Linked DNA regions of Homo sapiens. The protein of the gene in region 2 interacts with the protein of the main gene of each other region in a pairwise test. Each region holds a gene or a part of one and is shown on either strand. Other genes may lie near its edges.

The links. Proteins that work in one complex are often made in the same cells at the same time.
Region 1: the proteins of TSPAN2 (region 2) and MFF interact in binary tests that used the Homo sapiens proteins (3 or more experiments, as listed by UniProt).

The regions. Positions count from the first base shown.
Region 1 is NC_000002.12:227,349,245-227,352,999, forward strand, and holds part of MFF (mitochondrial fission factor), read left to right. Parts: intron 1-3,269; coding exon 3,270-3,329; intron 3,330-3,755. UniProt on the Homo sapiens protein: Plays a role in mitochondrial and peroxisomal fission. Promotes the recruitment and association of the fission mediator dynamin-related protein 1 (DNM1L) to the mitochondrial surface.
Region 2 is NC_000001.11:115,082,802-115,086,556, forward strand, and holds part of TSPAN2 (tetraspanin-2), read right to left. Parts: intron 1-3,755. UniProt on the Homo sapiens protein: May play a role in signalling in oligodendrocytes in the early stages of their terminal differentiation into myelin-forming glia and may also function in stabilizing the mature sheath.

The DNA of each region.
Region 1 (3,755 bases), on a different chromosome or scaffold from region 2:
ATGTGGAACTTATAAAAATATGGATTTTTTCCTCCATAATGGAAAAAAAATTGTGCCTCAGAGTCAAATGTATAAAATCAAAAATCGTATTAGTATAAACTTTGTATTTTTTTAATAATGAAAAATATTTTTGGACTTTCAGTGAAATTTTATTTCACTTTTTTACATTGTGATGAATTGATAACTCTAAAATCCCTTTTCTGGGAAGGAATTCTCTTTTCTCATTCATTTCAGTAAGTTTTTAAAAGTTCATGAAGGAGTTATATTAATAATGCTTTTCTCCTAGATCTGTAGCATTAGTTGTTACCTTGGAGCTTGGAGGGTTAGATTCTCATCAGTCTTATTGACGCTTTCAGTATTGAAAGGATTTTTTAAAGTTGTATTCACTTAGGATCTCAGTGTTGAGCAAGATTTTATCAGAATTTTAAGTGCCAAATCAGTTTTTATTTCCTTTGTGAGAAGTATCTGGCATGACTTTTCAGATATAAGAAATAGGAATGTGAAATTTGGATAATGTTCTACTTGCATGATTATAAAATAATACTGCTTATAAAATTTTAAGTGCTTCTATGTTCCTTGCTCTGTAGATCATTTTTTCTTTTCTATTTTATTACTCTTGGCTATTATGCTAATGCAATACCTTATCTTTGGTCATATGCCATCACATTAGGTGTAGTTAATTTAAACTAGAACTATTTGGCAGAAAAAGAAAAAAGCTTTCTGCTTGCTTTATCACTATGAAGTAATGCAGATTCACAATTCCTTGACATAAGAACTGTGTTCAGTTTACATTTTAAAGGACGCTGTCAAAAGGTTTGTGTACCATATATTTTTTTCTTACAAGAATGTAGATGATCTAAACCAAACTCAACGTGAAAACCAAGTTAAATCCTAGGTACATGTTAGAAAAGTTTATTTACACAGGTGAGTGTTACGCATTTGGAGAACTGATACACTGAAAATTTACCAAAGCACCAGGTGTGTCATTTGCTCAGGTGCAGCAGAAATTAAAATACTATTATGATTTGGTCCTTAACTGGTTAGAAAATGCCGGTCTCTCCCTGTATCTGTTAGAGCTATGTATCTCATTTTACAATGTAAAATATTCGCATCTTCAAAAAGAAACTTAGTTCCTGTGTAAGAACCTTATTTAAATATTGATAGATGAGTCATGCTTAGCTCTCATTTTTACGAGGGGCTTGATTATTTTTATGCAGTTTTTCCTTAACAGATTGTACCAGCTTTGAGTGCATAGAATAAGAAACCAATGTATGAATAATTTATATTTTTGGCAAGTATCCCTATAAATATACAGCTTGGAAGACCTAGAAATCCAGAGTTGCAGTGGATACAGCGTTTGTTATTTATAATTTTTCTCTTTAAAAAAGTGTATAATTCCTGATCCCCAATTAAACTTTATTTTCTGTAGCAGATTACATTTTTATAGCAAAGAAACACATATTCTGTTACGTCAGAGTGTATTTACTCAAAAAATGTCAGTACGCAAGTTAATGGCGGAGCTTGGTGGTAGCCTTGGATTTCTTTCCCTTTTGCCACTCTACAAAACATACTGTTGAGAAGATTTTATGTATTAAATCATACTTATCGTAGAAAATGGTACTTGAATGAAGTTTCTAACTTTGCCACATACCTGTCTAATTTACTTTTACAATATATGTGTCAATTGCCAGTGTGAGAAGACAAAATGAAATACGTTGTGAAAGGTAACTGTATTATTTTCTGGCTCTGCGTTATAAAAGGGAAATCTCTGTGGTGGAATAGGTTGAATATGACAGACCCATTTGAACATACTGTGTGCATTTTAAAAAGCTTTAGGAAGCACACAGTGATGGCTTCATCTAGTTAACCATTTTCATGTTAGTGCAATTTAAGATTGTAGTTAAATAACAGGTTTCCTAATGCCACAGAGTAAATATGTTAGTAGGATGAGATGAGTTAAAGACCTGTCTTAAGCATATGTGATTTCTCCATGTTTTTTAGCCAGTAAAATAAAAGTCAAACATGTTCCCCCAAAAAGTCTCTGAATCCCTTATCATCTAGGCTCCAGAAATTTCTTTAAGCACTGGTAGTACCTTTAAGACATGTAGAAGTTAAACATTAGAATTTTCTTACATGAATTGAATTATCAGAAAATAATTTGTATTGTAGTCAAAATTCCACAGCTGTGCCAACTTACAGAAAAAATTAGTGCATTTGGTATTAAACATTTACCATTATATAATTATTGTCTTGATACTTAAATTCAGGCAAAACCAGATCAGTTACTTAGAGAATGAGATATCCAAAATAGGATTTAATAATTCTTCAAATCTTTATATGGATCCAACACTCCAGTCTCCTTTCTCTGCTTAGTAAATATTGCTGATTGTTTTAGGGGGAATTGACCAGTGAACACTTAGAAGCTTTTGTTTTCTGATTTTAAAAGATAAAACGTATTGGAAAGGTTACTGCTTATCAAAGTAGAAAGCTAACTGTCCTCTAGCGCCAAAGTATATACTGAGAATGAGTGGAAATCCCCACCAAGTTTCCCATTGCACCTTAGTCTTCATTTCCAGCAGCCCTGTATGTCACTCCTGGCTGTCTCAAGATCAGACTCAAATTGTGGATTGCCCTTCCTGTAATGTGCTCTAGCACGTCTCCTGATCTCAGCTTCAGAGTGGAGGCTTGCATTTTCACTCTGGAGAGCTGAGAGTTTGAATGAGACACAGCTGCAACGAGACATCAGGCACTACTCAAAATTAATGAGGTGGGAGGGAAGGAAGTGTGGGAAATGGAGTTTCTTGAAATTTATGAATACGGTTTTTGAGATAGAGCTGTTGATATCAGATGAGCAACTGTGGTCATACCGGTGCAGCTAACCAGGTCCTGATATGCTTTTAAAGGTGCTAGTGATTTTTTTTTTCCAACTGGAAGAAAGGAATTACACTTTTTAAGCAGAGTTGTCCTCTGTCTTAAATTTCATAAAGTAAAGCACCAAGAAAATTATTTTATATGTTGGTGCTGTTTTGTCGTGTAAATATAGATTCCCTTTGTTTCTTTGATCAATAGTAATGTTGAGTTTATGAAAATGATAAAATGGAGGACACATGAGACAAGGATTTTTTAAAGTAGTTGAGAGATATTATATTGTATTGAAATATACAATATAATCCTATTTGACATTTATTTGTCTTGTTTTTGCTTTTATTTTATTACTTCTCTGTTTCCTGATTCTGTCTTGTGCCTTCTCCCGCAAAAACCTGCCTTAGACCTGTGTTGCGTGGTGGGTCTGCTGCCGCCACTTCTAATCCTCATCATGACAACGTCAGGTAAATTTTGAGACTTCGTAATTACCAGGGTAAATGCTTGGCGGAATTTGTGTGTTGCAGGGCATGTTGCATGTCGTAGCCATGCCTGTGTTTGTAGCTGAACTTGTTTCTACAGCTTTCCTCGATGAGTACATCTTGCTTCTCTCTAAGAACAGTGAATAATCAGTCATGACATTTGGCCAATTAGTATGAGGGAAAATGTTTAATAATTATGGTATGATGTGAACAGCTATTTTATTTAAGTGTAGTGTTAATAGTTTATAGGTGGTTTATAATAATTTACATGCTAAAACAGAAAAAAGTCTTAAATCTTATTTTATGTACATCATTTTAATGGTTGCCTGAATTGTGCCCAGCATTTCCTTTTAAGTTGTTAATTATCTGGAATGTTACTTTTAGTGTGTGAACAAACCTGTCTTTGTTTGT
Region 2 (3,755 bases):
TTATACCTTATATTCTACACGTTCCAATAAATTAAAACAATGAAAAAAGCATGGGGTTTAAAGTCAGAAGACCTGGGACATACCACCTACTGTGCCTGACTTTCAGCTTTCACAACTGTAAAATGGGAATAATTACACTATTTCGTGAGATTGTTGTGATTCATGATCAGGTGGGATAACGCATATGAAAGCACTTCGTAAACTGAAGCATTGTTATTTTTGTTCCCAATCAAATTCAAAGAGGATGAAAAAGGCAGGCCAAGGTAACCCGAGTTAATTCATCTGTAAGATGTGCTCCCAGCCCATCTGGTATTTCCATCTTGCTGGCAGCATTCTCTCTTTAATTCCTTAGCAACCATGACATGATTTGTTTCAGTGCTCAGTATAGCATCACTTGTTTTAAGGGAGCAGCTTCGCGATATTAACTGTCAAGGTTGGGGGATAGAGGTTACGTTCTCTTTTGTCACACATGGTTGGAGACCCAAAGACACTTCATGGCTGATGTTCTAGAACAACAAGGTGAAATGCAATGAACAATGGACAGGTGGCCTCCCGGTAATTCCAGAAAGCATCAAGTATTAGCGTAAAAAAGAGACTTAATAAAGGTAAAGTGGTAACTGAAATTAAAAGAACTGCCAAAAACAAGCCAAGTGAGTAAGCCAAGAAGCAGGGCACACCCTGCTTCAGTCAGAAACAAGTGCCACTGCTGAATCTCTGACCTCTTCAGGCCACATCTAAAACAGGGGTTCTCAAAGCATGTTCCCAGACCAGCAACACGAGCATCACCTGGGAGCTTGTTAGAAATGCAGACCCACTGAATCCGAATAAAGCTGAATAAGCTCCCTATGTGATCTGTACGCACGTTAAAGTTTGAGAGGCACTGATCACCAAAGGTTTTCCCATTGCTTTTCCTTGGCCTCCACTTAGTAGCACAGAAGTGGGAAAGGAAATAAACAGATCCTGCTCCAGGGTCAGTGCACACAACTACCTTAGCTGGAGCCATGCTTAACTCTATTAGGTACTGAGGGATTGGGAGAAAGGGGATGCCAAAAGGACACAGTCCCTGCCCTCAAGGAGCAAAGACTAAACAGGGAATAAATTCTAATCAAAGGCAAAATGGAGGCTAAATAAAGGCATGAGTGCCTCAAGATCAAGGGCTGTGTCTTAATCATCTTTGAATTCCCAGCACTTGGCAGGGAACGGTGGAGGAAGTGATCTCTCCTTTTGACTCCATGCCCTTGATAAACTCCAAGCCTCTTGCTACCTTGCTTGCTTAGCTGGATGTAAAACACCTGCCTGCTTTGTTGTGACTTTATGAACCTCTTGGATTCTAGATTCTACTTTCCCATTTGTACTTCTAGTATTTAAAAACAACTATTACTGATATGTTATTATTTACTGTATGCATGAACCATACTTATAACCTTACATATATTAACTCATTTTATGTGCACAAAGTTCACAGATATTAGTAGTTTATTATGTCCATTATACAGATGAGAAAATGGAGGCTCAAAGAGGTTAAACAACTTGCCCAAAGTCCCCTAGGTAGTAAAGAGTGGAGGCAGGAATAGAGTCAGGCAGTATGATGTCAGTATCCACTGCCCAGGTTTTGGATTCCTGGATTTGAACTGCCACGCTGCATAGGTCTGTCCGAGGTCTACCGGAACCCTGGCACCATAGCTGTGGCTTCTTCAGACTGTCCCCTCTTGTAGGCTATCTGTTCCTCCTAGCAATTCTAGGTCCACACTAGGGGACACTGGCCCCTGGTACTCTCTTTCCACCTTGACAAAAATCAGAAATGAAGATTCTCCTCCAGCGAGGCTGAGAACATTCCTATCTGCCTTATGGGCTGGTCTCCAAAGAATACTTTCTTTAGGTATTTTTTCCTAAACCAATGTCTCTGACAGGTGATTGCTCTGAAGTTACTGTTTGAAATAAGTTTGGGAAAGAGTGGAAGGTGACCTCTATGAGATTCATGTGAGTCAAACTTCTTTGACTCCCAAGCCTGCAAGACACTGTCTTTCTTAAATGTACCTGTTAGGCATCCCCAAGTGAAAACCCAAAGCTGTATTAATAATGGTGAGAAGGAAAGGAGGGCAACTTCAGACTTGCCATATATGGAATCTGCTTTTCAACAATGAACAGCTCTGCTTCCTGTGGGTCAGTAACGCTGAGCAGCTAGTGCAGCACAATGATAGGAAAACACTGACCATACAACAATAAACCAAGGAATAAACAGCGCCCAGGTTTTCCTTTAAGCCAACATATGCGGCTTGGTGGGGGTGTAGTGTTTTATTTATATTGCTATGCAACGTAGGAAAAAAAAAGGTGATTTCAATGAAAGGCACAGGAATATGCTGTGCTATCTGATCGCAGGTCTGAATTTAGACATGACAGATGTTGGGAGGGGTTTCACATTTGACATCAACCACGATAAGAGAAATTAATGTAGTGGGGTTAATGGCTAGGCTTTATTTTGTTTTTAAAAATTCAGTGGTGAGTACAGTCAGCGGCCCTGGGCCAGGGAATACTGTGCTGGCTCTGGCAGGGCCTGGTTGTATGTTTATGAAACCAGGAGCACAGCCTAGGGAAACTTAAAGCAAGCTGCCAGAGGAGGCTGCAAATTGATCTGTTAAATCGCAGATCACCAAACAGAACCTGTCCCACCTCTATGCTTACTTCTGGCGAGGTTCTGATTGGAAGGAAGTGCTGTCACCCAAGGAACCCCGTAACTCCGAGGGGCAGGCACATGAGCTTCTAAGGGTGTGTGTAAATTTATACTTCAGTCACAGCTAAAGTCTGGCCTTCTAGGAAAACTATCCCCCACCCCTTTCCCAAACTTCCCACGAAGCCCTCCAACCACAAAAAAACAACTTTAGAAACTTGAGTGGGGCTTTTCTGGAATCAGGTTCCCTCAGTTACAGTGAAGGCAGATATCTAGATACTTTATCCCACACTTTCCCTTAAGTCATGAGGTGCCTGTTTCAGTTGCCTCTTCGCTCTAGTTGCTGCCTCCACCCCCACCCCCCATGAAACTGGGGGAGAGGAAGGTCCTTCATGTCCTACTGCATGCCTTCTATATGCTAGGCACTATTCTAGCACTGGGGATACAGCTATGAGCAAAACAGAAAAAACAAAATTCCTGCTCTCAGAGTGTTTTAAGTTCTAGTGGGGAAAATCCACAAGTACAAATTGACAAGATAAGGTGTAGTTATCCTCAAATGAAGACAAATGGCAAGTCACTTGGCAAACTTATATACTATTCCCCACCAAGAAAGGAATCAGGAGAAAGAGAGCTAACATTTATTGAATGCTTCCTATGTGCCGATAACAAAAATAATAATTAATATTTTTGAGCATTTACTATGTCCTAGGCTCATAGGAAGTTGAGGTCACATACTTTATATATTCCCTCTTAATCCTCTCAATATTTCTGTTACTCCAATAGCACAGATGAGAAAACAAGCCTAGAAGTAACAATAACTTGCTCAAGTACACCCTGTTTGTGCAGGCACGCCCTGCTTGGGATCTCTGCACTCCAGCCTGATGGCTTCGACAGTCAGATGGTGGCGCACACTCCCCCTTGCTCTGCTCCTCTGCTGGTGGATGGTGCGTCACCCCCTCGCTTTGCCCAGCTCCATTCTACCAGTCCTTCCAGGTTTAGCTCGAATAGCTCCTTCTTAAGGAGAACTTTTCTGGCTCCTCATCATGACTGTGATCCTTTCTCTAAACTCCTTACTTAGATCACATAT